Regions from separate parts of the Homo sapiens genome. Here regions 1, 2, 4, 5 and 6 are each reported to be linked to region 3. Evidence: microRNA targets listed by miRTarBase, many of them from high-throughput screens and not tested one by one. Region 3 holds a microRNA gene; each other region holds the end of a gene's coding sequence.
What was found. Region 3 holds the annotated microRNA hsa-miR-625-5p (AGGGGGAAAGUUCUAUAGUCC, at 2,876-2,896, shown strand). A microRNA usually pairs through its seed, bases 2 to 8, with sites in the 3' UTR of a target mRNA and lowers its output. Matches are read on the target gene's strand: a 7mer-m8 pairs with bases 2 to 8, a 7mer-A1 pairs with bases 2 to 7 and ends in A, and an 8mer does both.

Region 1 (4,936 bases), not on the chromosome of region 3:
ACTGTAAGAATGTGTCGATTTCTAGAAATAAGTACAGCTATTACCACCAAATCTACTAGCAGTCTAAATAATTAATTGAAGCATTGCTCTTTGACCCTTGAAAAGTCCAGTAGGGACACGTTTATAGCAATAATACCTCCGAATGAGCCCTTGTCAAATATTCATTTAGTGGTTAATGTGAGCCATTTTCCCCTGGGATGGTCTGTAATACCAGCTTCCCAGCATTGGCAAGAAACCTTGCTAATCTACTACAGCTCAGCAAAATATTTTAACGCTCTTTATTTAAAGTATGTGGTGGGGGGGGGGTGGGTGGTTTGGGGAGAGAAAAAAATTTCAGAAAGAACAGACTGTACTCTCATCCTTTTGCACATTTCTATTCTGTGTATATAGTTAACAAAACATTTAAATTCACCCTATTTGACTGGAAATTGAGTGGTTTCATTGAGCAGAATAATATCCCGAGGAAAAGAACTAAACAACAACTATCTTCAGCACCATGAGATAACCATCTCTGGGCAAGTTTATGGGTTTACTCTCCTTGAAAATCACATTATTATTAAAATATTATATGTTCGATATTAATCTAGCCATGAAATTACATATCTCAGGTAACCATTTAATTTAATCAAATGAATGATCGTACAAGATATATATCATTTCCCTCAGATGTAGTTATCAAAAGCATTTATATTTGCAAACAAAATATTTTGACTTTCATTTTTCAACTATTTGGCTCGGCGATATGAAGGGGTAGAAGGGGGAACGGGAGTTCTCTTGTTTTATGCAGATAGTGACAATTATTCAAAGCTAGTTCTACTTCCCAAAATATTGTGCTCCCTTTCCTTTTGCTAAATATTTGAACCTGACCATTTTGCCAGAAAGTTGCTGACCCTGTGGGCTTTTTTTTAAAAAATGAGAGGTGAGTGCAGTGCAATTACTGTAAACCTCTATACATATTTCTAATATATTTCTATTTTCAAAATATATATAATCTATATATTTGACTGCCTCAAATTCCGGGAATATCCTCCCCACTCCCCCAGGATGATCATTTGGATCTTTATTCAAAGTTTCTTTTATTCGTATGTGTGAGCAAGAACTGGCGAATGTGCTCATTACCACGTGAATAATCCGTATATGCATTACAATGGCTGGCCAGGCTAGGGGAAATTCTTTTAGAGTCTCTGCATTAATTAGGGGGGAAAATGCCTTGCTTAGAATTGGGAACTGGAATAATAATTGTCCCTTCCCAGTACAATGTTATCCTAAAAATGAGGATTAAAAAAGTAATAAATAAAAACCAGTACATATCTAAAACAAAGCAATCTAGAAAAAAATAGAAAGTACAGAAAATATGAGATATCCTCAGTTCAGCCCAGAACTAACATTAGCAACACCATGAGAAAGAAATACTTTCTTGGAAATGAGAAGATGCAAACCAACGGGATGAGCTAACTTAGTGGCTGCAGCGGGTACTTTACTCAAGGGTGGAAGACGCTGCCGGATTCCAACTTCTCCAAAGTTGTAGCAAGTTGACACAAGCTCTTGAAATTGTGGGAAGCAAACCCGTGCTCTTAAAAGTGCCCGATTGTTGGTTCCTGGTCCCCGTGGGTGGGGGAAGACGAGCGAATCAAGTAGTAAATAAAGTAGAAAAGTCCCTGACTAGGTAACAGATTATCCGGCTGCCCCAAAGCAAGGGTGGGTGGTGATGCAGAAGCATCGCTAATTCAAAGACCATGGCGATGTCTCAACTTTTCCACTCCCACTGAGGACAACTATAGCCTTTCTTTACCTTTCCTAGGGCAAAAAAAAAAAAAAAAAAAAAAAAAAAAAAAAAAAAAAAAAAAAAAAAAACCACCACACAACAAATCCAATCTTGTTTCCCCACCCCTTTCCCCTCCCCCACTTCTCTACTACAGTAGTAAAACATTGTTAACAGATCAAAAGCATAATCATCTCCAAATGTGATTAGACCGGACAAAGTAAAATATCTACCTCAGAGTTGATTGTTTTCTTCTTTAATATGGCTGTTGCCTGGCTTCTCTTTTGCTTGTTATCAGCTGCAGAGATTATCCGATTTGGGGCTACAGGCTTGGACCCGCGCTGCCAATTTAAGAAATGGAATTCAGGGAGAGAGGGAGAGAGAGGGGAAAAAAGAAAATAAATAATAAAAAAAACTATGTTTATGATAAGCCGGGGAGTTTTGCAAGATGTTCTTTTCTTTCCCTCTCCCCGAACAGGAAAATGTAGAGGAGAAAGTTTATGAAGTCAAGGAACAAAGAAAGCAAACCACTTGTTTCCTCTCAGACAATAGCAGGGCCAGAGTAATCCAAACACCCACCCAGCAGATGAACACTTTGCATGTCTAGTTTGCAATTATTCTGATACAAGAAGCATCATTTTTCTCTATAGCCAGGTTTCAAAGGGCCATTGTGCTGTGAAGAAAATGAAAACAAAACCAGCCAACCTGGTTCTGATTTGGCTCAATATCCCATCTGCTAAACTACATGAAAAATTTCAGAATTGAATCCTTTCTGGCAACAAGTGGCATAAATCAGTTTTAAGTATAGGTCCCCATCATGCTTATTCATGCTGCTTAGAAAAGGAGGGGGCGGATTTACAATATATGTCTCTAGTTTCTATTTTAGAAATGACAGAAATTTCAATTTTTCCAGTACTTATTAATCATCCAGCCGTTTCTTTTTTGCAGTTAACATTAGCACATGATGCTGGACTAGTAATACCAAGGTTTTTGGTATTTTGCTTTCTTGGCTGAGCACAGTATTATAATTCCCCGAAAAGTTATGTATAATCACAGTGTTATCCAAATAAATGAAAGACTCAAGAATAATTTCAGTGTCCATATTTCAAAAATTTATTTATCTCAAACTGTGCATAATGGAGTAAAAACTTAAGTTGAAAATGTACCTGTTATAAGGATGATATTAGTTCAAATATATACATGGATTCTCGGCAGACTGATTCAAATAATACAGAGCCGAATCTTTTAAAATACAACTACGGAAAATAAAGGGGGGAAAACCTTAAAATATCACAATAAATTTACAGAAATATTACAAACCATAAGAAAATATTTCAAACACAGTAATTTCATGGTTTTTTTTATCTGAACAAAATGGAAAGTTGGGATCGAACAAAAGCTATTATAAATTACCAACGGTGTCAACCTGCATGGCCATTTTTGCTTTTAACAGTAAGTTATAAAATTTAGTACAGTCTAAAACTTTTGCCCTTTTTAAACAAGACCACAGAGATGGTTCGCCAGTACTTATTCTAATTTTTTCCTTTTGTACAATTTTTAAACAATTAAAATGTCCAAATTTGAATAATTTTCTTCTTTTCACGTTTGCAACTGTCCTAAATTTCAGCTGCAGAATCAAAATTCAGCAAGAAGCCTCTCCTTGAAAAATATTGGCAAATTCTCAGCTTATAAACAATGGACATTTTGATTGCCATGTTTATCTCGATAAATACTGTACAAAAGTTGCTTGCAAATATTAAAACATTTTTTTCGTCGCTTGGAGACTAGCTCTAAATATTATTGGTAAAGACTTTTGCAAACTTCCTGCAAAGCTCCTACCGTACCACTAGAACTTTTAAAAAGTTTTTCGTAGCTTTCTTTCCTCCAGATCTATACAAGGTCCATTCCCCCGCCCTCCCCACCCTCCCCAGGTTTTCTCTGTACAAAAATAGTCCCCCAAAAAGAAGTCCAGGATCTCTCTCATAAAAGTTTTCTTGTCGGCATCGCGGTTTTTGCGTGAGTGTGGATGGGATTGGTGTTCTCTTTTGCAGCTGTCATTTGCTGTGGGTGATGGGATTTTTTTTTTTCCTTTTTCTTTTTGAGCGTACCGGGTTTTCTCCATGCTGTTTCTTACTCTCCTCTTTTGCACCCCTCCCATTTCCCTCGTTTTTCTTTGAAAATTTCTCCCCCCTCCAGTTCGCTGTCCGGCCCTCACATGTGTGAGAGGGGCAGTGTGCCGTTAATGGCCGTGCCGGGCACCGGGCCGCTCTGGTAGTGCTGGGACATGTGAAGTCTGCTGGGGGCGGCGGGTTCCGGCACCTCGGCGCCGGGGAGATACATGCTGATCATGTCCCGGAGGTCCCCGGCCTGGCAGGGCGCCCTGGAGTGGGAGGAAGAGGTAACCACAGGGGGGCTGGAGCTGGCCTCGGACTTGACCACCGAACCCATGGAGCCAAGAGCCATGCCAGGGGTGCCCTGCTGCGAGTAGGACATGCTGTAGGTGGGCGAGCCGTTCATGTAGGTCTGCGAGCTGGTCATGGAGTTGTACTGCAGGGCGCTCACGTCGTAGCGGTGCATGGGCTGCATCTGCGCTGCGCCGTGCGCATTGAGGCCCGGGTGCTGCGGGTAGCCCAGCTGGTCCTGCATCATGCTGTAGCTGCCGTTGCTCCAGCCGTTCATGTGCGCGTAACTGTCCATGCGCTGGTTCACGCCCGCGCCCAGGCCGGCGCCCACCCCGACCCCGCTCGCCATGCTATTGCCGCCGGGGGCCAGCAGCCCGCCGGGCAGCGTGTACTTATCCTTCTTCATGAGCGTCTTGGTTTTCCGCCGGGGCCGGTATTTATAATCCGGGTGCTCCTTCATGTGCAGCGCTCGCAGCCGCTTAGCCTCGTCGATGAACGGCCGCTTCTCCGTCTCCGACAAAAGTTTCCACTCGGCGCCCAGGCGCTTGCTGATCTCCGAGTTGTGCATCTTGGGGTTCTCCTGGGCCATCTTGCGCCGCTGCCCGCGGGACCACACCATGAAGGCATTCATGGGCCGCTTGACGCGGTCCGGGCTGTTTTTCTGGTTGCCGCCGGCCGCCGCCGCGGTGGAGTTGCCGCCGCCGCCCCCCGAAGTTTGCTGCGGGCCCGGCGGCTTCAGCTCCGTCTCCATCATGTTGTACATGCGGGCGCT
Region 2 (4,936 bases), not on the chromosome of region 3:
ATGAGCCAGGAGAAGGAATTTCACAAGGTAATGTCATCAGTTAAGGCAGGGACCAGCCATTTTCACTTCTTTTGTGGTGGAATATCATCAGTTAAGGTAGGAACCAGCCGTCTGGATGTGCACATGCAGGTCACAGGGGATATGATGGCTTAGCTTGGGCTCAGAGGCCTGACACACAGCATTATTACAAACACTTAGGACACAGAGGTATCCATTCATGGATTTCTTTCCCTTTACCAAGGTATGAGTTCCTCAAGGATGTGCTGCTATGTATATTATCCATCCTTGAATGCGTAGCTGGGGACCTGGCATGTGACCGATATCCACTGAACATCCGTGAAGTGAACCGAAGTCGATGTTTAGTAGCCAGGTAGGAGCAGCGAGGGCGTCACCTGGCAGTTCTCATTCTAAAGAAGATGGTGTAGCCTGGGAGGGTCATGAATCCCACTTTTGCAACCAACCTTCCCTCAGAAGAGAGAGTCTGGGACACCCTGTTCTAACCCTTCGGTGGACTTCCGCATGGCATGTAGACCATTCCAGATGACTTGGTCTATGCTCTCTGTCCTTGAGATGGCTCTTTTACTGTTTTGTATGCACACTACATCTCCCCAGTTAGTCTGTAAGCTTTACTTGGGCAGGAAAGACGACCGTTTTGTGTCTTTCTGTGTCTGCCTCAGTACAGAGCTCCTGGGAGACCTTCGACAATTTAGTACATGTAGCTTGAAAGAACCCGAGGCTTTGGGTTTCAAAGGCAGCTGTCAGATTTCTGGTCCGACTTTAGGAATATATATATTTTTTTGTCTGTGGGTGGGCAGTCTCGTGGAACTGAGGATTAATTTTTCATGAGGGTTGTGAGTTTGCGAGAAATTCTTCAAGAAATGGCTTTGGGGCTGGGCATGGTGACTCACGTGTGTAATCCCAGCACTCTGGGGAGGCCAAGGTGGGAGGATCACTTGAGGCCAGGAGTTCCAGACCAGCCTGGGCAACATAATGAGACCCTGCCTCTATTTAAAAATAATAAGAAAAGAGGAAAGAAAAGGCTTTTGGATAGCTTTCGTAGGAATTTCTTAAGAGTATAATCTTTTCCCCACTCATCTTGTTAGAGCAATTAAGAGGCTTTGGGGCTGGGCATGGTGGCTCAATGGTAGGGGGTGGGTGGCAAGATGACTTTATTTTTATTTTTATTTTTATTTTTTTTAAATGAAGTCTCGTTTTGTCTCCTAGGCTGGAGTGCAGTGGTGCGATCTCGGCTCACTGCAACTTCTGCCTCCAGGGTTCAAGCAATTCTCCTGCCTCAGCCTCCCAAGTAGCTGGGACTACAGGCATGTACCACCGCACCCAGCCAATTTTTGTATTTTGAGTAAACAAGGGGTTTCACTATGTTGGCCAGGCTGGTCTTGAACTCCTGACCTCAGGTGATCTGCCCGCTTTGGCCTCCCAGAGTGCTGGGATTACAGGCGTGATCCACCACGCCTGGCTGGCAAGATGACTTTGAAGTGTTATTCTTGACCTGTTCACACCGTTGAGTTCACGCAGGGTGTTTTTCATATTACTTTATTTCCTGTACTGTGAAGTGTGTTGAAATGTGGAAGTTATTTCACAAAGTTAACAGGGTCTTCAAGACAGAAGAGATATACGTGCAGAGTACACACATACACCTACGTACACACCTGTATATGTCGATGACGACAGCATGGAGGGAATGAACTTGTGCATGGAGAAGGGGGCTTTTTTTAAACTTGAAAGAAACCAGCCCATTCTGTGTGTGTTTGGAGGAGGGGAGCCTGTAAAGCCTATTTACCTTGAATCCCCTCTGGCTTACAGCTGCAGAGAGCAAAGGAGAGCAGACATATTCTAGATTGGGCAGTGGGATGATGGTGATTGCGTTGCTGCTCAACGAGTCTGGGTTTGCAGGATCAAGGTAATGACCTCTCCCCTGAGGGCCTCATCAAAGGGGCTGAGGCTGCAAGCTGTGAATAAGATGCAGAAGGGGCTCTTATCCAGGCCGAAGCACCAGGTTGCTTTCGGCCATAATAACGTGTGGACTTTAAGCAGGAGCCTTGAAGAAACCAGCTGCAGCTAGAAAGAATGCGGCGATTGTAGTGGAGCACGGGGGAAGGAGGCTATGATGAAATGGGCCCTATTTTCCATAATTAGCAAAAAAGAAAGGTGAGAAGGAGCATAATGGGAATTTCTTGAAGTTAGGGACCCAGCTTAATCCAATTTCTTAAAAACCTCTGGAACTTTTTTCATCCTAACTTGGGGGTGGGCACTGTGTCTTACTCATTTCTAGAACATCCATCCTCTATGCCTCCCACCAATATACACACGCAGGGGGCTGAGAAGGGGCAGCATCCCTTGGAGGAAGTTAGGGGGAAAGGTGAAGTCGAGGCAGCCCTGTCTGGACCGGGTTCCACTTGGAGACCTGCCAAGCTGCTCACCTGGGCCAGGCAATGGAGGGTGGGGAAGCCTCTGGGGGAGGGACAGTCCATACAGAAAATAAATTACTGCAAGGGAAGGGGCAAATATTTAGGACTTGTCCTGCATTCGAGTATGATTTAAAGTGTGGAGCTGCAGACTCGGAACATGAGCGCCGGAGGGACCTCAGAGGAGCATCTTTTTTTTTTCTTTTTTGAGACGGAGTCTCACTCTGTCGCCCAAGCTGGAGTGCAGTGGCACAATCTCGCCTCACTGCAACCTCCGCCTCCCCGGCTCAAGCGATTCTCCCGCCTCAGCCTCCCAGTAGCTGGGATTATAGGCGCGCGCCACTATGCCTGGCTAATTTTTTTGTATTTTAGTAGAGACGGGGGTTTCACCATGTTGCCCAGGGTGGTTTCGAACTCCTGAGCTCAGGCAATAATCTGCCCGCCTCGGCCTCCCAAAGTGCTGGGATTACAGGCGTGAGCCACCGCGCCCGGCCGGGAGCATCTTATCCACCTCCTCGGTTTACAGATGAGGGAGCTGAGAAGGCACCTGGGAAGGGCCTACAACAAACGGGAGCCGACTATGTCCTCACCTGGGCTCACTCACGATGGGAATGAGCCCAGCCTGGGGACGTTTGTGCCCGCTAGACCCTAGAGGAGAGCGACACCATGCACACGGCCCATGGCTCTTCCGTGTTGGGACCCCACGGGCCTCCTCCACCGAGGAAAATCACCCCAGGAAGAGGGCCAGGCGCAAGACTGGGACCAGCTGTTACTCCCACCAGCCACTAGGTGGCACCGATGCGTCTGTCTCCGAGGAGGAGGCGCATTTTCAAACGTGGAGGGGCTTCTGGGAGACGTCCAGGTGCTCCGCCCCTTCCTCCCTGTTTCTCAGGAGCCGCCTCCCGAGGGTGGAAATGGCTGGGCCGCGCACACTGATGGAGAACAGATGGCGGGGGCGGGGCTGCCTCTTCCTTCCCCCGCCCCCACAAAAACACTGTGAACCCTCCTCCCTAAACCCGAGGTTGGGCAAGGGGGCCGCAGGACCCATCGACGTCACGCGGGCCCATCCCGGGCTTGAACCCTTCCCCTCTCCCATGGCTGCTTCCTAGTTCCTTGGGCCATTCTTCTCCTTGGCTGTTCCTCCTGAGGCCCAGCCAGGAGGGCGTGTGCTATGTTCACCCTGGAACAGAAGGGGGCGCCCTGCGCATCCCTGTGTCCTGCTGGCCAGATGCAGGCCCCTGCGGGAGCCCTGACCCTGCACCCTACCTCCGTCATTCCCTCGCTCCTCCTTCCCGATACCCGGGCCAGCAGGGCCAGGGCGATGTCTGGTGCCGGGGAACCAAGCGGCGGAGCAGCAGCTTTGCCAGAAGGGATCCTTGGCCCAGGAGAACTGGGTTTCTCGGCCTCTTTGAGCCAGAGCTGCCGAAGATGGAGGAGTCCCCAGGGGGACTTTCTGAACCTTACCTCCGGGCTGTTTGCTCGGCCAGGACCAAGATCAGATAGTCCACGGCCCAGATGTACCCAGGAGTGGCGGGTGGGGGAGGAGAGAGAAGGGGACACCAAGTCTTTAGACACATCTGTGTTTCTGGAGCAAAGGGAAACCACAGAAGGCCAGGAGTTTGGGTGTGCACTGGGTGTCTTTCAACTGGGTGGAACCAAACTGAGTCCTTGAAGTCTCGCTCCTGAGGCTGCAGAAGAATAGATGGCTTTTCCCTGCCTCGAGGGTGGGATAAGGGAGGCAAAGCTGGGAGAAAGAAAGGGAGAGAGAGAAAACGAATGGCCGGCACAGGTGCCTGGGCCCCAGCCTTCAAGTGCGGTCAGAGCAGATCCGGTGGCGGAGTAGGGCCTAGATGACCACGGACTGCAGGAGGCGGAAGCACATCATGAGGTCCAGCGGGATGGGCGGCTTCAAGTAGTTTCCATCCAGCCGCAGGTAGCGCAGGTGTGGCACGTTCTCCAGGTCCGAGGAGAAGTCATGGAACGCCACTAGGTCGTTGGGGCAAATCTGGGTTCCGTTGATTTCTACGGAAAAAGAAGACGAGAAATCAGAAGGGAGTGGAGGCTGGCGGCCAAGATGAGGAAGGGGAAGGGGGAAGACACCCGAGAGCAAGGACTGTAGACTTCTCTCTGAAACTGGCTAGCTTTGGGAATGTGTGATCATAGATGAGCTGCCTTGACCTCCAGGCTCAGTTTACTCATTTGTAAAATGAATTAAGTTGGAATTGATCAACAACTGTTATTGCAAGTTAACTCTAGAGAATTGGAAGTAAATTTTGAACTGGGCCTTCAAGAATAGGTAGAATTACAACAGGTGGAGACCTGGGGGATGGTGTTCTGATAGAGGAATCTGTTTGAATGAAGTTGTGGAGGCCAAAATTCTGCTTGTGGGCGAATCTGGGAATAGTAATAGTGCCCAATGTGATGTACTAAGGAGAGTAAGCTGGGAAGGTAGTTAGGCTTTCACTAAGAGGCTTTTGATCTCTGGTCTGAGGAATGGCAGTGAACAGGAC
Region 3 (4,936 bases):
TTATAGATTCGCATACATGTGGCCAAAGGAACAACTCCATGTTTACTAAAAGGCCTAGAGAACATATATCGGGTGCCTCTCTTCTTTCCCTTTGTGTTCGTCCTTTTGGCGAATTACTGGAAGATGGTGGTTCCGGCCGAAAGGTTGGATTTTTTTTTTTTTTTTTTTAACACTAAATATTTCACTTCACTCTTTTTGCTTGCATGGTTTCTGAAGAGAAAGTTTGATCTAATTCTTTATTTCTCTGTGGATAAGATGTTTTCTGTGTGTGTTGATTTTTTTCTTTACCTCTTGCTTCTTTCGAGATATCTTATTGGTCTTAAAGTTAATAAGGAAAAAACTAAAGTTTTGCTTTTGATTTAGTTTTCTCTTTGTCTTATTTTCTGCAGCTTCACTATCATTTGCCTATGTAAATATTTTGGTATTTATCTTGCTTGGTGTTCTCTGAACTTCCAGGTTTGGTGTTTCTTACTAAAGACATTCTTTCCTGTTACAGTGTTATTGATTTGTACACTCCCCTTCCTCGCCTCCCCTCTTCACTGTTTTTTCCTTCTCTTTACTCTTCCTTTCTTTCCACAGGATCTCACTCTGTCACCCTGGCTGGAGTGCAGTAGTGGCGTGATCATAACTCGCTGCAGTCTTGAACTCCTAGGCTCAAGTGATTCTCCCTCCTCAGCTTCTCAAGTAGCCAGGACTACAGGTGTGTGCCACCATGCCTGGCGATTAAAAAAAAAATCGTAGAAACAGGGTCTCCAATGTTGCCCAGGCCGGTCTTAGAAAAAAGGACTTAGCTGGGCATGGTGGTGGCATGCACCTGTAGTCCTACCTGCTTGGGAAGCTGTGGCAGGAAGATTGTTTGTGCCTAGGAGTTCAAGGCTACAGTGCGCTGTGAATCACCACTGTACTCCAGACTGGGTAACAGTGAGACCCTGTCTCAAAACATATATATAAAAAAAAATTCCTGGTGATAATTTGATAATTCCTGGTAAAAATTTCTGCCACATCCGAGTCTGTTTCCGAGGCTTGCTTTGTTTCTTCAGATTGTATTTTTTGCCTTTATAGTGCCTCATAATTTTTTTTCATAGCCAGACAGAATGTATCAGGTAAAAGGAACTGAGGTAAATAGGCCTTTAGTGTGAGGTTTTATGTTTATCTGTTTAGAAGTCAGGCTGTGTTTAGTGTTTGTTCTGGCTGTGGTATCGGAGGCAAATGTTACGGGATCTTTAAGGTGTTGCTTTTCTGTCTAGAAACCTCTGTGGCCAGTGGCGCCTTTGCCCGAGTTCTTGTCCTGTGTCCAGGAAGAATTATGTATGCAGACAAGTGGAGGGTGAGCAAGACAAAGAGAAGCTTTACTGAGTGTTAGAACAGCTCAGAGGAGAGCTGCAGAGGGCAGCCCCTCTCTATAGGCAGGTTGTCTCATCCAGTGTTCAGCTCTCAGCAGAGAGGAGGCCCTGGAGTGAGTGGCTCCTCTCTGCAGGCAGGTCCCCATTGACTTCCCAGCTCTCAGCAGAGACGATAGCTCCTCTCTGCAGCTAGTCATCTGGCTGTCTCTCTGGCCTCTGCCCTGCTCTGGCTGATCTCGGGGCTTTTATGGACCTCAGTGGGGAGGAAGTGTGTCAATTGGTACATCGGTGGCCATGGGTGGGCTGGAAAAGGCACCACAAGCCCCCACTGCAGTCTGCGGGACTGGCAGCCCGGTCCCCAACGTTCAGGCCCTCCCTGGCCTGAAGGTGGGGTCTATCTGGGGACGTGCCCCCTTCCACCCAGGAGCCTGTCTGCTTCCTGCCACTTTCCATGGCTCCCAGGCTGCTTGTGCCAAGGGGCACCTGCCTGCCAGCATGGAGCAGCTCTCCACCTCAGCTTCCTCAGAGGGGGCCTAGGCGGCAGGGCCTGAGCATGCGCATATCCTGTTGGGCTGTGATGATATCCAGGCTTGGCTCCAACCCCACTCTGAGAACCTGCCACATTGGAGCCGGTGCGGGAAGTGGCAGCGGGAACAGGCATTTCCGAGCCTGCAAAGGCAAGGGGGGCCTTCCTGAGCCCCCAAGAGCACACGGAGGCCTGGGTCCACAACCCTGACTTGGGTAGCTGCAGCTGTATGGGGTTGGGGGACAGGGCTCCTGCCTGTTTCCAGTCCCCAAGAGCACATGGAGGCCTGGGTCTACCACCCAGGCTTGGGTGGCTTGGGCTGCTGCCTGCTCCTGGCTCCCACTGGCACTGTGGAGCATGCAGCCCTGGCTCCGCCCCCTTTCAGCCTGAGACAGGGGCTCCAGATCCTTGCTGGACCTGGGCTGGGATCCGGGGCAGGGGTGACATCGCCGGGAGCTACCCCAGTTGCCCTGGCGCTTCAGTGGCCCAGGCAGAGCAGATAACTGTCCGGCCTGGCTGTTGGGAGTGGCAGGCTCAGCAGTCGCCTGATGTGGGGTGGACCCTGGGGATGTAGCCCCGGGCAGCCCTGCACAGAGCCTCCTCCTGAGGCCCAGGAACCTGGCACCCTCAGTGGGGTGGGCGCAGTGGCTGTGTCACTGGCTGGTCCCTGAAGTGGGCACCGCTCCCACTTCCTGCCTCAGGCCCCTGAAGCTCAGCCTCAGCTCTGCATCGGTCTGCTCTCTGCTTGACTGTGCTGCACAGAGGGCGGCGGGCTGTTGAGGGAGGGGGTCTGTCCGCCTCTCCCTGTGCCGTCCATGTACCAGAAAGCCACCGCCATCACTATTAGAGGCTAAAATTTCTTCTACTGTCCTTGCTTTTATCTGCCCTGTTGTCTTTGGGTTTTTGTAAAGAATCCTTAAATGGGGTCTGAGGCTTGCAGGTTTTTAAGTTGTAATCCTGTGTTGTACAAGAGCTGTACTGATGTGGTGGTAAGGGTAGAGGGATGAGGGGGAAAGTTCTATAGTCCTGTAATTAGATCTCAGGACTATAGAACTTTCCCCCTCATCCCTCTGCCCTCTACCAACTGTGAGCCTGAGTTGAGTAACTGTCTCTTTTTCTCGGTCAAAGGATAGATGGGGCTGGAGTTGGGTATTTCCCTTCCCTCCGGTTGGTTAGGCACTGTAAAACCGTAGTAGGTTAGGCAATCTAAAAGCCAGTTGGTTAGGTTCTGGTAAAATAGTTTCCTTTTCTGGAATACCTTTTAAGAGAAATAAAGTTCCTGGCGTATTTCAAAATGGTTTTTCTTCTTCCCCTGCTGCAAGCAGGAGGGGTTTTTTTTCAGATCTTTACCATGAGAACCTGGTAGGGCTCCTGGAGGTAAAACTCAGGAAAGTATGGGGACCCCTGTAAGACTGGTCCCCTTACAGTTTTTAACTCTCAAGCTAGTCCACAATTACTGTTTCAAGTGTTCCTACTGATGCTGGCTTCAGTTGAGAGCTTGTATTCCTGGACTTCTGCTTCCTGCACACTGTGATTCTCTATCTGCCTGTCTTGTCTCTCCAGGTTTTAGAGCAGCAGTTTGCCCTCTGACCTCAATTCTCTGATGGCTCTAAGAAGAGTTGGATTATCAGTTTTTTTTTTTTTACCCCCAGCTTTTTTTCTTGTCGTGAGGTTGGGAGTGATGAATTACAAGCTCTTTACAACTGTACTTAAGGTTATTTTTTGACCATTTTTGATGCTTTTGTAACTAGTCAAAAGACTTATTACAGTATCCTTTATCTCATTTGGCAGTATTGTTCATTAAGAATTTTATCTCTTTCTGACATCAGGTCTGCACATTTTGGGGATAATATATTCTAATTTGCAAGAAAGATTAAAAAACTTCTCCAGAGGGAAGTTGATCATAGGACTGATTCTTATTATTGATGAATTGACTGCCTTGTCTTGTTTTGTGTTGCTATGTAGGAATACCTGAGGCTAGGTAATTTATAAAGAGTTTGATTTACCGCACAGTTCTGCAGGCTGTACAAGAAGTATGGCACCAGGATCGGCTTGTAGTGAGGGCCTTAGGCTACTTCCACTGATAGCAGAAGGCAAAGAGGTGCCAGCTTGTGCACAAAATGAGAGAGGAGAAAAGGGTGGGAGGAGGGGCCCTGGCTCTTTTTAACAACCAGCTCTTGGGGGAACAAATAGAGTGAGACCTCAAGCATGCCTGAGGAAGAGCATTAATTTATTCTTGAGGGTTCTGACCCCTCCCCACCATGCCCAACAACATCTCCCATTAGGCCCCACCCCCAACATTGAGATCAAATTTCAACAGGAGGGACAATCATCTAAGTGATAGCATAGACTCAGGCTATTTACTATTCTGTTTTCAAGTATAGATTGAGGGCAACAGCAGCCTTTGTTTTCTATGTTGATGGCCAAAGGTTTATTTTTATATTCTTATACTGTAAAAAAAAAAACAACTTTATTTTTATAGCCTTTTTGGGTGTAGGGTCATGTCAGGCTTTACTAATTGCACTTCTGATAAGTATACTGATGATGCTGAGGATGGTTATTAAAGCCCTATGCTGATACTTTGGATTTATGGAACCAATTAATTTGATGACTCATTTACATTGAATTTCTTAATTAGTAGATTGCCCACTAATTATTTTTATGAGCACAGAATAAGGTAATGTTTATTCTTATTTTTTTTGTGATATGGTAAAAAACTTAGTTCATATAATGAATTTAGTGCTCAAATATCTTAGTAGAAATTGAAGTAGAAAAAGACATTGTTGTAAATTAAATGTAAGATATAATTTTATTTTCTTTAGAAAACTTTACATTGAAAAGATCACATTATAGATAATTTAGACAACTTATTTATAACTTTTATTTATTATTATTATTGAATGTAAAAGAATTACATGCAGTCCCATGATCTTAACATAACTGTGGTTACCATGTTGGTATATGTGCCTTTTAGTCCTTTTTCATACACAATTTTTTTTACAAAGTTATAATAATAATTTCTTTTCAAATTTGTGCCTTATTTCAGTTAACAGTGTAAATGTTTCCC
Region 4 (4,936 bases), not on the chromosome of region 3:
CCACAACATGTCTGTCAAGGTGAGAAGCCCGTGGCTGCAGAGTCACGCCTGGCAGCAGCACACCCCTCCCTCCACACTCATGGATTCCTCAGAGAAGACTGGCTTAATTTGTGGCCCACGTCCCAGCCAATCTCTGTAAAATCACTGAGCTGCAGCACAGGGGGCCCAGAATGGGGAGGGGACTTGGCCATAGTTCCATAGCCAGTTGCCCTCTCCTATTGCGTTTAAGGGATGATGTGGTCACCAGGGAGGACCAGGCAGGGATTCAGAGGGCGGGGTTCTACATTTGGTTCCAAATTTGAGGCATTTAACTTCTCAAAGCTCTGTTTCTCCATCTCTGAAGCTGATAGGGAGGTGTTACCTGTCTTGCTTGCTTCACAGGGTTGGTAAGATTAAAAGAAGTCCCTGTATTGAGGCACTTAGCGAAGTCTAAATTGTAAAAAAGATGGCGCTGGTATCTAGCTCCACAAAAGGGTGAGCCCTTATCCTCAGTTAAGCACTGAGTTTGGCGCTGTTACTATTTGCTTGCCATGTTTTTTTCTGGTCTCCTCCGAGGAAACTAGGATATTGCTGCCTTGCTTAAAATCTGGCTAAGCCCTACTCCACGTGACATGCAAGGCCCTTTGTGACCTGGTCCCTTAGGTCAAGCCTCCCCTCCCACTCCTGCCCCACCACCCAGCAGCCAGCCCACTGGGTGCAGGCCAGGCCCCTCCCACATGGAATCCTCCACCGGGAAGGCCTCTCCCCGTTGCCACATCCACTGTGTTCCTCCTTTTCCTCCTCCCTGCCCAGTCAAGAGAGTTGGTCGTTTATTCCTCTTTTTTCAGCATTTCCCACAGGGCACTGTAATAATTCCTTTGATGCCTAGCCCCCCACTAGACTAACTGGAGAGGGGCCCGCCGCTTCCTGCCTGGTGTCTAGCTCACAGAGGGGACGCAGGGAGTGCAGGTTGCGTGAGTGCCTCACCTGCTTCCTTCCCTCGCTCATCTCCTCTCTTTGCTGTGCCCCAGGCCATGAGGTTTCCTCCCAAATCGTACAACAAGGACTTGGAGTCTGCAGAGGTAAGCTCTCTGCTTTCTGGGTGAGACCGAAAGGTCAAACTTCCACACAGAAGGGGAGTCGGGCGAGTGTCTGGAAGGGCTGAGCTGCTCTGAAGCTTTGGCCTCACTTGCCTCTCTCCCCAGGAACGGCGTGAGCGAGAACAGCAGGACTTGGAGTTTGCCAAGGAGATGGCAGAAGATGATGATGACAGCTTCCCTTGAGCTGGGGGGCTGGGGAGGGGTAGGGGGAATGGGGACAGGCTCTTTCCCCCTTGGGGGTCCCCTGCCCAGGGCACTGTCCCCATTTTCCCACACACAGCTCATATGCTGCATTCGTGCAGGGGGTGGGGGTGCTGGGAGCCAGCCACCCTGACCTCCCCCAGGGCTCCTCCCCAGCCGGTGACTTACTGTACAGCAGGCAGGAGGGTGGGCAGGCAACCTCCCCGGGCAGGGTCCTGGCCAGCAGTGTGGGAGCAGGAGGGGAAGGATAGTTCTGTGTACTCCTTTAGGGAGTGGGGGACTAGAACTGGGATGTCTTGGCTTGTATGTTTTTTGAAGCTTCGATTATGATTTTTAAACAATAAAAAGTTCTCCACAGTGCTTTGTGCATCAGTTACTATACTTCACTGCAGTATTGGCAGGCTCAGATTTTGGGTTTTTTGGCCTTAGAGTACTAGCCCCAGGTGTGTAATCTGAGGGCGATGGGTCTGCAGATGGGGAGGTGCCCAGGGGAGGATGAAGGGACCCTGACCTGGGGTCGGGGGCCTAGGTTTACTCTCTTTTCGTACTTGTGTGGCTTTGGTAAGGTCTTGTTAGGAAAGGTGTACCATGTGTCCATCACCAGCTGCAGACCTTCATCTCCCAATACACCTCATGGTGCTTCACGGTTATTGCAGTTTTTACAAATTGAAGGTTTGGCCAGGCATGGTGGCTCATGCCTGTAATCCCAACACTTTGGGAGGCTAAGGTGGGCGGATCACTAAAGGTCAGGAGTTTGAGACCAGCCTGGCCAACATGGCAAAACCCCGTCTCTACTAAAAATAAAAAAATCAGCTGGGCATGGAGGCAGGCGCCTGTAATCCCAGCTACTTGGGAGGCTGAAGCAGGAGAATTGCTTGAACCCGGGAGGTGGAGCATGCAGTGAGCCAAGATCTCGCCACTGCACTCCAGCCTGGGCAACAGAGTGAGACTGTGTCTCAAAAGAAAAAGAAAAGGACAAATTGAAGGTTTCTGGCAACACTGCATCAAGCAAATCTGTCGGTGCCATTTTCCCAACAGCATGTGCTCACTTAGCGTCTCTGGGTCACATTTTGGTAAATCCTCTCGATATCTCAAACTTTTTCATTATATCTGTTATGGTGATGTGTGATCGGTGATCTTTGATGTTACTATTGTCATTGTTGGGGCACCACAAATTGCACCCATATAGGATGGTGAACTTAGCCGGGCACGGTGGCTCGCGCTTGTAATCCCAGCACTTTGGCAGGCCGAGGCAGGTGGATCACCTGAGGTCAGGAGTTCAGGACCAGCTTGGACAACATGGGGAAACCCCGTCTCTACTAAAAATACAAAAAACAGCCGGGTGTGGTGGCAGGCGCCTGTAATCCCAGCTACTTGGGAGACTGAGGCAGGAGAATTGCTTGAACCCAGGAGGCGGAGGTTCCAGTGAGCCAAGATCGTGCCATTGCACTCCAGCCTGGGTGACACAGTGAGACATTGTCAAAAAAAAAAAAAAGATGGTGAACTTAATAAATGTCGAGTGTGTTCTCACTGCTCACACTGCTCACTCCATTCCCTGTCTCTCTCCCTCTTCTTGAGTCTCTCCATGCCCTGAGACACAAAATAATATTGAAATTAGGCCTGTTAGTAACCCTACAATGGCCTCTTAAGTGTTCCAGTGAGAGAAAGAGTCATTGGCCAGGCCTGGTGACTCACGCCTGTTATCCCAGCACTTTGGGAGGCCAAGGCTGGTGGACCCCTTGAGCTCAGGAGTTGGAGATCAGCCTGGGCAACACAATGAAACCTTATCGCTACAAAAAATATAAAAATTAGCTGGGCATGTGGCACGCACCTGTAGTCCCAGCTACTAGGAAGCCTGAGGTGGAAGGAGCCCTTGAGCCTGGGAGGTGAAGGCAGAGGCTGCAGTGACCTGAGATCCTGCCACTGCACTCCCACCTGGGCGACAGTGAGACCCTGTCTCAAAACAAGAAAACAGAAAAAGGGAGAAAGAATCACACATCTCTCACTTTCAATCAAAAGGTCAAAATGATTATGCTTAGTGAGGAAGGCATGTTGAAAGCTGAGAGAGGCCAAAAGTCAGGTCTCCTGCACCAAACAGGTAGCCAAGTTGTGAAGGGGGAGTTCTTTAAGGAAATTAAAAGTGCTGCTCCAGGTTGGGCACGGTGGCTCACAACTGTAATCCCAGCACTTTGGGAGGCTGAGGCGGGCAGATCACAAGGTCAGGAGTTCGAGACCAGCCTGGCCAGCATGGTGAAACCCCGTCTCTACTACAAATACAAAAACTAGCCAGGCATGGCAGTGGGCGCCTGTAATCCCAGCTACTCGGGAGGCTGAGATAGGAGAATCCTTGAAACCGGAAGGCAGAGGTTGCAGTGAGCCGAGATCACACCACTGCACTTCAGCCTGGGTAACAAAAGCGAAACTCTGTCTCAAAAAAAATGTTTTAAAAAGAGTTCGAGACCAGCCTGGCCAACATGGCAAGACCCCATCTCTACTAAAAATACAAAAAATTAGCTGGGCGTGGTGGTGCATGCCTGTACTCCGAACTACTTAGGACGCTGAGGCAGGAGAATCGCTTGAAGTGGGGAGGCGGAGGTTACCATGAGTCAAGATCGCACCACTGCACTCCAACCTGGGTGACAGAGCGAAATTCTGTCTCAAAACAATAAAAAATAAAAATGATAAATTAAATTAAAAGTGCTGCTCTAGTGGACACACAAATGATATGAAAGCAGAATAGCATTATTGCTGATACGGAGAAAGTTTGAGTCTGGAAAGAAGATCAAATCAGCCACAACATTCCTTTAAGCCAAAGCCTAGTCCGGAGAAAGGCCCTCACTCTCTTCAATCCTTTGAAGGCAGAGAGAGGTGAGAAAGTTGCAGAAGAAAAGTCAGAAGCTAACAGAGGTTGTTTTGTGAGGTTGAAAGAAAGAAGCCGTCTCTGTAACATAAAAGTGCAAAGTGAAGCAGCAAGTGCTGATGGAGAAGCTGCAGTAAGTTATCCATCAGATCTAGCTGATCTCACTGACGAAGGTGGCTACACTCAAAAACAGACTTTCAATGTAGACAAACAGCCTTCTATTGGAAGAAGATGCCACCTGGGACTTTCATAGCTACAGAAGAGAAGTCAATCCCTGGCTTCAAAGCTTCGAAGGACAGGCTGACTCTCGTTAGGGCTAATGCAGCTGGCGACTTTAAGTTGAAGCCAATGCTCATTTACCATTCCGAAAATCCCAGGGCTCTTAAGAATGATGCTAAATCTATTCTGCCTGTGCTCTGTGGATGGAACAACAAAGCCTGGATGACAGCCCATCTGTTCCCAGCATGGTTTACCGAACATTTTAAGCCACTGTTGAGACCAACTCCTTCGTCGGCTCTGTCGGCCAGGCTGGAGTGCCGTGGCATGATCTCAGCTCACTGCAACCTCTGCTTCTAGGTTCAAGCGATTCTCCTGCCTCAGCCTCCTGAGTAGCTGGGATTACAGGCATGAGCCACCGCACTCAGCCAAAAAAAATATTTTTTAAAGTTATTACTGCTGATTGACGATGCACCTGATTACCCAAGGGCTCTGATGGAGGGATACCAGGGAAATAATATTGTTTTCATTCCTGCTAACACATCCATTCTGCAGCCCATGGATGAAGAAGTAATTTCAA
Region 5 (4,936 bases), not on the chromosome of region 3:
GTCTCATTCCCTCGACCCAGAGCACGCCTGGGGCGTGACAAGCTGTGGTGTGGACAGACCCCTTAGGAGGCAAAGGCCGTCTTGCTCACAGCTCCACTTCCGCCCACCCAAGGCTAAGTTTGGCTATGAGCTGTTCTTTTCCTCCGGACACGTGTGAAGTCTCTGGTGGTCCAGCCAGGTGGTGGGTGGAGTTGGGCTGGCCCTGGGAATGGCTGCTGGTCCATGCAGGGGGGTCTCACTGGCTGAGGCTCCATGCTGCCTGCCCCAGGTCACCCGGCCAGGGTGTGGAGTGGCTTTACCCCTGACCTCAACTCCAATTTTGGGGGATGCTGCCTGTACACACCTGCATGTCAACAGGATAAAGGTAAGGGTGTTGGGGGTGCCGGGGGTCCAGCACGGCACTGGGGTGAAGTCCCAGTGGTTCATATTTACAGCTTTTCAAATCCAGAAGGTTCCTAAGGTCTCCCGAATAATTGCATCAATGCTTGAAGAAAATCACAAGCGTTTAAGGAACAAAATAATGTTTTTATTAAAAATTGTACCCATAGCACCTCTCTGTCTTCCTACAAGTTGTTTCTTTTTTTCTTTTAATGAGATCTGTTTTTCTGCACAATTTCAGAAAAAGTTGTAGGGAACGTTTAGGGACCTGACGGCTCCCTAAACCAGAAGGTGACGCGGGAAGGAGACGTGTCCCAGCGGGCAGGCTCAGCTCATGAGTTTCCACGTTGTCCTCACCTTTCAGACTGGATCCATGCTACCAGGACGCTGACCCACGGGGAGCCACACTTAGGTACGCAGACGGGTTGCTCGTCAGGAGGATAGCTACACTGTGTGCCAAGAATGCGTAAGAAATAAAAACCATGCTACGAACCATTAGGCAAACATCATGCTTCAGCCCAGTCACAGTTAGATACAAACACGGCCTCCGAAGACCTGTACAGAGTGAGCCACCTCCCGGGGCTGTGGAGGCGCGTTCCGTGTGTGGCCATCTGGGTCCCCTCTCCCTGGGGCCCCTCGTTTTTTGGCTACAGCATTGAGTGAAGTGCGCCTTATAAAAGCAGGCTGGGAGAGAGGCTGAAGGCGAGGCTGGGGAGAGGGGCTTGGGCTGGACCGATTCACCCAGAAGGTGGCCGTGCAGGAGGCCGAGGGGGTGTGGCCTGGCAGCTCTCTCTGGGCTCACCTGCCTGGAATCTCTGCCCTGGCACCCCAGGAGGAGGGAGCTCTGCACACCCATCCCTGTGGCTCAGACGGAGCCTCCTGGCCACTCCGTGACCACATCCTTGCAGGGTGGGGCCGAAGCAATCTGAAATGAGCCACGTTGGGGGTGGGTGGGGAGACTCAGCCACTGCTGTCATGAGGCATCCGCAAGGCATGACTTTCAGCACGGCAGGAGAGAGCGGGAGCACATTCCATCTAGCCTGGCTTAGAGACATTTTGTTTGTCCTCTTTTTAAAACCGAGATTAAAATCCAACCTCCATCTTCCTAGGCTGTGATTTTCTTTTCCTTCCCTGAAGATAAGGAGTTAGGAACTGTTGCTTCTCAAATGCCGCATTGCTCTGGGAGGCCAAAATCTACCTGGAAACATCCAGCTCTGTTCCTTTGCACAGGTGGTTCTCATGGGACAGAGTCCCTCCGAGGCATGGGCGCTGTCCTAAGCACAGTCCAGCAGCAGCCAGGAGGCCGGCGTAGCCTCGGACAGGCCGCTCCGTACAGATCAAGGTTTACTAAGAGTGGAGGGGAGACGGAAAACATGAGCTTGAAACAGAAGTGTCATGATGTTGTATCGAAAACCCGAGAGCAACAAACATATCTCGAATCTGCTCATCCTCAACCTAAGACGTCTCAACACTCTCCCTGGCATGTAAAGCCACATCCTCATGGCTGCAGAGAGCAGTCATCAGAGTGCACAGAAAGCAGCGCTGGCCATGGTCTCCATTTATCGCTTCTCTTCCAAGAAATTCCAGTGCTCACATCCTGGCTTCCCGCCCACTTCGCCCTCTCCGGGGCCGAGGGGAAGGAGGTGGCACTGTCCACTGTGGTGAGTCTCATCCGGGGAACTGTGGGTTGCGATTCTCATGCAGAAGTGGCTTTGGGCAGAGCATCTAGGATTTTTGGTTTAGAATATTTCCCCCTCCACTCAGAAAAAGGAGGAGAAAAGGAAGAAGGAATAGGGGAGAGAGGAAGGGAGGGAGGGAAAGAAGGGAGGGAAGGAAGGAGGAAAGAGAGGAAGGAAGGGAGGGAAGGAGGGAGGGAGGGAGGAAAGAAGAGAGGAAGGGAGGAAGGAAGGAAAGGAGGGGTAAAGGAAAGGAAGGAGGGGAAGGAAGGGAGGAGAGAAAAAAGGAAACTTGCCATACCCTCTAATTTTGGAAAGACTGAAAAGGGGTTTTCCAGCCTATACAAAACTCTCCTTGGTCTCCTGGGGCCATACTCAGCAACGCTGACAGCACAGAATCCAGGCAATATCCACACCCTCTGCCCATGGAGGTGCACAAAACATCTAGGTAAGCAGGGGCCACACTTTCTGCATGTGGCCAGGAGACTGGCTCCTGGGTGGCACTGGTCAGATACTGCTCAGTTGTCCCCTACCCTCAGGTCACTGGGGGAACGGCACCTGCCCGTTTGCCGTGCACTGGGGGGCACTGACAGGGTGGTCTTGAGTCTTGTGTGTGTCACGCTGCTGCTGGTGAGGGGGCACTTACAGGGACCCGGGGCACACACGCCAGTGGGCACCAGCAGTGCTCCCGTTCCATCCAGACCCGGGACCCGGGCTGAGGGGTGGACCATGGCAGCCCAGTCGTCTGTTGCAAAGATGACGTGAGGGGCTGGAGGCATGGCCATCTCTGAGCTGTTAAGTTTTCCAAAGTAGTTCATACTCTTTTCATCTAGCTGAAAAATTTAAACCAAACAATGACAATTTTAAATAAAAAAAAGAAACATTTCCAAAAAACCTGTTAAGGCTAAAAGCTGGCCTCGGACTGGGAGAGGGGGCAGCAGCAGCGCCAGTGGTGGAGAAGCGGTGGCTGCTGCGAGCAGCCAGCAGAAGCCAGGACAGAGGGAGGGGACGGCCTGGTGTGCACGAGGCGAGTCGGGAGCGTGTGTTCTCAGAGCTGTTTTGCTTTATTTGCAGACACTGTTGCTTTTCATCTTTCCCATGTACAAAGCTGAACAATTAATAAAAAGGCACCTGGAGACAGCAAAGACGCATTCATTTCATGTGACATAGTTTAAAAAAAGATAAAAAGATTTTAAAAATACTCTGGTTAACAATGCACGCTTCCTACGTAACAAGCAATTCTGGAGACGCCGTCCCGTGTCCTCGTGTCCCGCGGAGTTGACCGTGTGCTGTGTTCGGGGAAGGAGAGGGCCAGCGTGGTGGCTTCCAGCCCTAAGAGGCTTCCCTCTCCCTCGCTGTCAGGTGAGAAGGAAGGGGGAAAGACAGGCAGAAAAGCCTGAGGACCGCACCACTGCAGTGACACAGACAGTGACGGCTGAGCCACACCTTAGCATCCCTGCCTGGCCGTCAGGAACCTGAAAGCCGACTCCTTGACTAGACACTGCCAAGTGAGAACATTTCAGAAACAGATGAAGTTGGGACAAAACGCACTGAGCCCAGGGAAAAACGTTTGCTCTTCAAACCCCAGGAGCCGCCGAGGATGTCCTGCGTTGAGAAGGGTGTGAGCCGCTGGTTCTCTGGAAGAGGAGGTAGAAAGAGACGGGGGCCGGCCGGGGCAGCTCTGAGATCTCACCTGACCCTCCACTCCCTCTCCCCGCTTGACCCTTCCTAGTTGGTCTTGAAGACGGAGAAACCCAGGGCTGGGGAGGTCTGAGGTCCTCCCAGGCCCCGGAGGTGCCAAGCCATTGCACCAGTGAAATACACCTTCTCTTAAAAAGAAAAGAAAAAGAAACAAACCTGCTTCCTGCAGCGAAGTTACAAAAAGCCGTTTAAAAAAACCTTCCTAATTGAAATCTAGTGTCCACAAGTAGGTAAAATCATCACTTATCAGATTTTTTTCTTTTTAAACAAAAACTTCAGCTCAGTTATTGGAGTTGATTGTCTTAACAAAAATAGACTCCGGAAAGTTGCCTCCGTTCCGCCCTGAGGGAGGCGCGGCGCTTTGCTCACACGAAGGAGGAGAAGCCGGTGAGCGGAGTTCGCGCGCCGGGGCCAGCGGGGGTGTAGACGCCGCCCGCGCTCTGCGTGGTGATGACCGGGTGCAGCTGCGCGCCCGCCTCGGAGCCCGCCACCGCCTCGTACCTGTGCGGCGCAGGTGCGCGGCCCTGGGCCCTGCGCTTCCATGAGTTGTAGTAGGTGGGGTCGCTCATGTAGTGGTTCACGAAGGAGTGCTTGGGCAGCGCGTCCTCGTAGTCAGAGTCCGTGGCCTGCGGGGAGCGGGAGAGAAGGTGTGAGTGCAGGGCAGGGCGCAGGGCCCGGAGCGTGCTGGGCAGGAGGCCTGGCGGTGGGGGCACCTCCCCAGGGGCGTGTGTCGCGGTCTCCAGCCCTCTCCCCACCCCAACCCAATGCCAGGCCCTCCCACCCTCCACACAGGAGAGCAGGCAGCCCCCAGGTCCCCCTCCCTGATCCAGGTGTGACCGACACTGCATTTTCTCAGCTGCATCCAGCCCCTCACTCTGTACCAGGTTTCCGAGAAGAGCTGGGCCTCCACCCAGGAGAGGTCTATGCAGCCTCCCCACTCAGGAGCAATCTACATGGTCTCCTCACCCCAGGAGAGGTCTACACGGCCTCCCTCACTCAGGAGAGGTCTACACGGCCTTCCTTACCCCAGGAGAGGTCCACACCGCCTCCCCACTCAGGAGAGATCTACGCAGCCTCCCTCACTCAGGAGAGGTCTACACGGCCTTCCTTACCCCAGGAGAGGTCCACACGGCTTCCCTCACTCAGGAGAGGTCCACGCGGCCTCCCCACTCAGGAGAGGT
Region 6 (4,936 bases), not on the chromosome of region 3:
CAGAGGACAGATATTGGCTGGAAGTAGAAATTTAGGTGTTGCCAGCATAGAGATGAACTTTTTTTTTTTACTATTATTATGAAAAATTTCAAATATAAAGAAGAGAGAATGATATAATGAATAGCCAGTTTTGCCCATCTAGATTTAGAAATTTTTTTTTTTTCTATGTTGGTTTCATGTTCATTTTTTTAATAGTATTTGTAAATTGCAAGTATCCTGACATTTCCTGCCTAAATACTTCATGTGTATCAGCAGATTATTGAAACCATGAGAGAGGATGGTCTCCTTGGAAGAGAGAAAAGAGAGTGAAACAGAATGTAATCCTTCAGCCTCTTAAATATTTGTGCTGGTCCCTGCAATGGGGAATATATTGCTGATGGGAATCCATCTCTCTTGCTACTTTCATGGAAATAATAATGCCTGTCATTTACTGAGCACTTATTACCTGCTGGCATGGTCTCATTTAATCTTTCCACCAATGACTGAGGTTAGAATATTAAACCCATTTGACAGATGAGGAAACTGAGGCTCACTTGGGGTCTGGGACTTAATGAGTGCTTTTCACTTAAGTGCCAACTGAAGGAGTGAGGCTGGGAGAGTAGAAATAGCTTGCTCAAGGTGACACAGGTCAAAGTTATCAAACCTGTCATCCTCACTCCAAAGCCAGTGATCATCTTGAGGGCCCTCAGCATTTCAGAGCTGAGTTCCTGCTCCCTCTTGACCTCAGACTTGTCAGGGGAACATTTGTCCTGCCAAACTCATTTCTTTTCCATTTTTGATGTGTGTGTATGTGTGTGTGTGTGTGTGTGTGTGTGTGTGTGTGTGTATGCTTGTGTATGCACAGTTGGGCTTTGAGGTCACAGATAGATCACAGATTGTATTTTGGGATTGCCCCCCAACCCAAGTACGTACCAGAGTTCTAAAGAGCAGGGCTCCTCTGAGTGGGTGCTCCCACACCGCCACCTCTGGTCTCTCATGGCCTTCTGTGCTGCCTCCCACCAGGTGCACCCCAGACATGGATGTCATCCTCAACATTCCTGTGGAAGAGCCACTACCCTTCTAGATGGCAGTGCCATGGGCCGCCCTCCCCTCCTGCTCTCTTCCCAGCACCTGGAGCCTTGGATCATTTACTTCCAGGACCGGATCTCCATTCAGACCCTGATCTACAGTCTCCCTGCTCCCTCTGCCCTTCCTCCCTCTTTCTTTCCCTCCCTCCCTCCCTCCCTTCTTCCCCCCTTCCCTTCCCTCCTCCTTCCTTCCTCCTCTCCCTCCCTCCCTCCTTTCTTTCTTCCTGTGGTTTTTTCCTCTCTTCTTCCCTTCTTTCTGGTTGGTGCTGCTGGGCCAGGTGGGAATTTCTGATTAAATCTGCTATTCCTTTTTTACCAATAAAGCTGGATTTACATTTGCTTTTTTGCCAGTGTCTCGGGGTCCCCAGCTAGGTCTTGCAGAAGATGTGGTGGGAACGGACTTCGTCTTATGATAAGGGGCGGGCAACTGTGCTAACTGCATCTGGGGCTCAAAACTTCTCCAGAAGAAGTGCTGGAGCAACCCCCTGCCTGAGTCTCCATGGCTCAGTGGCTCTGGGCCACTCCCTCCTGGTGCAGTGGGAGCCCAGCTTCTCTCCAATCTGTGCCCAGACCTATTGAGGGCATTGTCGGGGCTGACAGGCTTATTGATTTTAATACCCCTGGAACTTGCTAGGCCTTCAGTGCTTGGAACAACTCAGAAGGGCTACTCTGGCTCCAGAACTTCCTGAAGGCTCAGCTGCAACTACCCTTGGGCCTGCACTGCAGCTGAACTTCTCCCTGTGCCCAATCCTGCATATTTCTGTCTTCCTCAGTTGTTGATTCCAAGAGCACTCATTACTCAACATTCTGCACCCTACACTCCATCTCAGAGTTGGCCTTTCTGGGCCAACTACTAGATTGCTACAACCCCCAAGAGGCTCTGGTCACTCACAGATCCACTTTGTGTTAAGATACTTGGTTACAGGTAACAAAACAACCAAATCACATTGGCCTAAACTATGAAGGGCTCAGGTCAATAAATAGCTTAGGTGAGGCTTTGTCCAGAAATCAAGTGATGGCACCAAGGACTTGGTTTCTATTTATCTACTTTGTTTTCTGAGGTGTTGCCCTTTTCTTCAGGTCAGCACTGCTTGTGGCCCCAATATGCCAGCATCTCCCAGGGTTGTACAGGTCCTTGTACATGTCCTGTTGGAAAGAGAGAGACTGGCTGTGTCCCAGAATTTTCAGCCAGTGTATTAAGATTCACTGTAATTGGGCTGGGCACAGTGGTTCACGCCTGTAATCCTAGCACTTTGGGAGGCCGAGGTGGGTGGATCACTTGAGGTCAGGAGTTCGAGACCATCCTGGCCAACATGGCAACACCCTGTGTCTACTAAAAATACAAAAATGAGCTGGGCGTGGCAGCAGGCACCTGTAATCCCAGCTACTCAGGAGGCTGAAGCAGGATAATTGCTTGAACCTGGGAGGCAGAGGTTGCAGTGAGCTGAGATTGTGCCACTGCTCTCCAGTCTGGGTGATGGGGGATGAGACTCCGTCTTTAAAAAAAAAAAAAAAAGATTCATTCTAATTGAACCAGCTTATATTACACGCCCACCTTGAGCCGGTGTTGGAGGTGGAGCGTGCCTGCTGGTTTAGTTCAGGTCACGGGCTCTACCTTGGAGCAGGGAAGGGATGGTTAAGGTGGAACACGTGACCTAGGCTGAGCCAACAGGTACTCCCCAGAGCCATGTGGATCTCCAAGCAGAAATGGACCCTGTTGAACACAATAGCAAACACTTCAATGGAACCTACGTTATGCTTTACATACATCAACTCACTACACCCTCACAACAACCACCCTGTGAAGTAGGTATTGTTTATTGTTATTTTCATTTTACAGATGAAGAAACCAAAGGATGAAAAGGCAAAGTGATTTTTCAAGTCACCAGGTTACTAAGTGGCAGAGGCAGTTTGCTCTTAACCACTGTACAATCAGGAGCTCAGCTGAGCAGGAGAGAGCTGAACTGCTAAGTGCTGGAGTAGCTGATTAATGATGGCCCGGCATGGTGGCTCAGGCCTGTAATCCTCACACTTTGGGAGGCTGAGGCCAGTGGGTTGCTTGATCTCAGGAATTTGAGACCAGACTGGACAACATGGTGAAACCCCATCTCTATAAAAAATATAAAAATTAGCTGGGCATGATGGTGTGCACCTGTAGTCCTAGCTACTAGGGAGACTGAGGTGGGAGGATTGCTTGAGCCCAGGAGGCGGAGGTTGCAGTGAGCCGAGATCGCACCACTGCACTCCAGCCTGGGTGACAGAGCGAAACCCTGTCTCAAAACAAAAAAAGTCAAAGCAAGTAATAGCCAAGCCCCAAATCTCTTATTATTACAGTACAAGAAAGAGGCTAAACCAGAGAACCTGGTTTGTTTTATTTTGTAGAACACAGATCCACCTGTTCTAATTTCCTCATAGAATGATGCCAACTGGGGTCGGGTGGATGAGCACAGGTGTGGGGTTGGTCTCACTGCAGAAAAGCTTCCAACAAAAAGGCTCCTGAAGTTGTACGGACCTGGGGGCCAGGGATGGGGTGGGGAAGGGAGAGTGGGAAAACTTCTGAGTCAGCATGGAGGAAAGTGTCTTCAAGGATTCTCCACTCCCCAAGATAAGGAGGTCCTGGCCGAAGGCCTACCCCACTGCAATGAAGACGTGTCTGAATGAAGACTTGGGTTGGGAGCGGAGATGTGTGTGAGAGGTCGACTGTCCAGGAGGCCTGAGTCTGTGTCTGCAACTGTCTTTAAAGACTGCAACGCATCAGCTGTGCACGACTCAGCTGTGAGGCCTGCCAGGTAAAACCTGTCATTGCCTGTGTTTGGGCTGAAAAATCACACATAGGTTTTTAGCCAGGAGCTGGACTGTTTGTGAAGGGATGCATGAGTTCAGAGGAGGAAAACCAAGAAAGGAAGCCTGGACATAGGTTCCCTCGCATTGCACGTAGCCCTCATGCCTCCGAATGCGCCAGAGAGTGACCCCGCACATGTACAGCATCTGTACATGGGTGTCTTCCCAGGTACTCAGAGCCGCGTGCGCAGCTCTCACAGGCAGATACACCTGCATGCACATGCACATGGATGCATACTGGGACTGTTTCTTTTCTTTTTTTCTTTTTTGAGACGGAGTCTTGCTCTGTCGCCCAGGTTGGAGTGCAGTGGCACAATCTCTGCTCACTGCAACTTCTGCCCCCGGGTTCAAGCGATTCTCCTGCCTCAGCCTCCTGAGTAGCTGGGATTACTGAGGCCCGCCACCATGCCCAGCTAATTTTTGTATTTTAGTAGAAACGGGGTTTCACCATGTTGACCAGGCTGGTCTCCAACTCCTGACCTCAGGTGATCCATCCGCCTTGGCCTCCCAAAGTGCTGGGATTACAGGCGTGAGCCACTGCTCCCGGCCCATCTATCATTCTTTATTGGAGTACCGGAGGGCAGCAGGAGTGAGAAAGAAGAGGTTTATGGGAACCCGAGGTTGAAGGGGAAATCAGCACTGGATATCACCTTTAATGGGAAGGACAGGCAACTGGGACGTCTCCAGAGCACTTAATAAGCTGTAGAGGTACTATTTAGATGACCAGACATTATTATTATTTTTAATGTAGTTTTTATTTTTATAGATTTACGGGGTACAAATACATATATTGCATAGTGGTGGAGTGGGCTTCTAGTGCCCCATTACCCGGATAGTGAATGTTGCACCCAATAGGTAATTTTTCAACCCTCACCCCTCTCCGCCTCCCATCGTTTGTAGCCTCCAATGTCTATTATTCCAATCTATACCACACATTACTTTTTAATTTTAGTAGGAGTTGGTTGAAAACCCTATTCTGGGGCTCAGTGAGTCCGGCTAATTGGGTAAATGGAAGTTTCATGGAATTT

Region 1: miRTarBase lists SOX2 as a target of hsa-miR-625-5p. Seed matches in the 3' UTR shown: 7mer-m8 at 3,034-3,040.
Region 2: the mRNA of PRELP is a reported target of hsa-miR-625-5p. Seed matches in the 3' UTR shown: 7mer-A1 at 3,962-3,968, 7mer-A1 at 2,474-2,480, 7mer-m8 at 2,372-2,378 and 7mer-m8 at 2,112-2,118.
Region 4: miRTarBase lists PSMD3 as a target of hsa-miR-625-5p. Seed matches in the 3' UTR shown: 7mer-m8 at 1,306-1,312 and 7mer-A1 at 1,416-1,422.
Region 5: miRTarBase lists SDK1 as a target of hsa-miR-625-5p. Seed matches in the 3' UTR shown: 7mer-m8 at 3,428-3,434 and 8mer at 2,599-2,606.
Region 6: the mRNA of C20orf96 is a reported target of hsa-miR-625-5p. Seed matches in the 3' UTR shown: 7mer-m8 at 1,229-1,235.

What each region holds. Positions count from the first base shown.
Region 1 is chr3:181,712,352-181,717,287 of GRCh38, reverse strand. It overlaps SOX2 (SRY-box transcription factor 2), which reads right to left. Exons shown (of 1, transcript NM_003106.4): 1 at 2,852-4,936. The coding sequence starts at 4,927. The coding sequence ends at 3,974. The region is part of intron 6 of SOX2-OT (SOX2 overlapping transcript); the gene reads right to left. Among named protein-coding and RNA genes, the nearest start is that of SOX2, 2.9 kb to the right of the region's middle. RefSeq lists cis regulatory regions at 1,135-1,138, 1,144-1,149 and enhancers at 1,040-1,231, 879-1,859, 3,522-4,373, 4,374-4,936.
Region 2 is chr1:203,486,218-203,491,153 of GRCh38, reverse strand. It overlaps PRELP (proline and arginine rich end leucine rich repeat protein), which reads right to left. Exons shown (of 3, transcript NM_002725.4): 3 at 1-4,448. The coding sequence ends at 4,273. Among named protein-coding and RNA genes, the nearest start is that of OPTC, 5.5 kb to the left of the region's middle.
Region 3 is chr14:65,468,241-65,473,176 of GRCh38, forward strand. MIR625 (microRNA 625) reads left to right here and starts at 2,862; the gene lies at 2,862-2,946. All of the region lies in intron 2 of FUT8 (fucosyltransferase 8), which reads left to right. It also overlaps the pseudogene RPL21P8.
Region 4 is chr17:39,996,320-40,001,255 of GRCh38, forward strand. PSMD3 (proteasome 26S subunit, non-ATPase 3) reads left to right here. Exons shown (of 12, transcript NM_002809.4): 10 at 1-19; 11 at 1,011-1,061; 12 at 1,185-1,640. The coding sequence ends at 1,262. Among named protein-coding and RNA genes, the nearest start is that of PSMD3-AS1, 16 kb to the right of the region's middle.
Region 5 is chr7:4,264,569-4,269,504 of GRCh38, reverse strand. SDK1 (sidekick cell adhesion molecule 1) reads right to left here. Exons shown (of 45, transcript NM_152744.4): 45 at 505-4,381. The coding sequence ends at 4,121. Among named protein-coding and RNA genes, the nearest start is that of FOXK1, 420 kb to the left of the region's middle. RefSeq lists an enhancer at 4,626-4,936.
Region 6 is chr20:267,334-272,269 of GRCh38, reverse strand. It overlaps C20orf96 (chromosome 20 open reading frame 96), which reads left to right. Exons shown (of 11, transcript NM_153269.3): 11 at 1,003-1,407. The coding sequence ends at 1,063. Among named protein-coding and RNA genes, the nearest start is that of DEFB132, 12 kb to the right of the region's middle.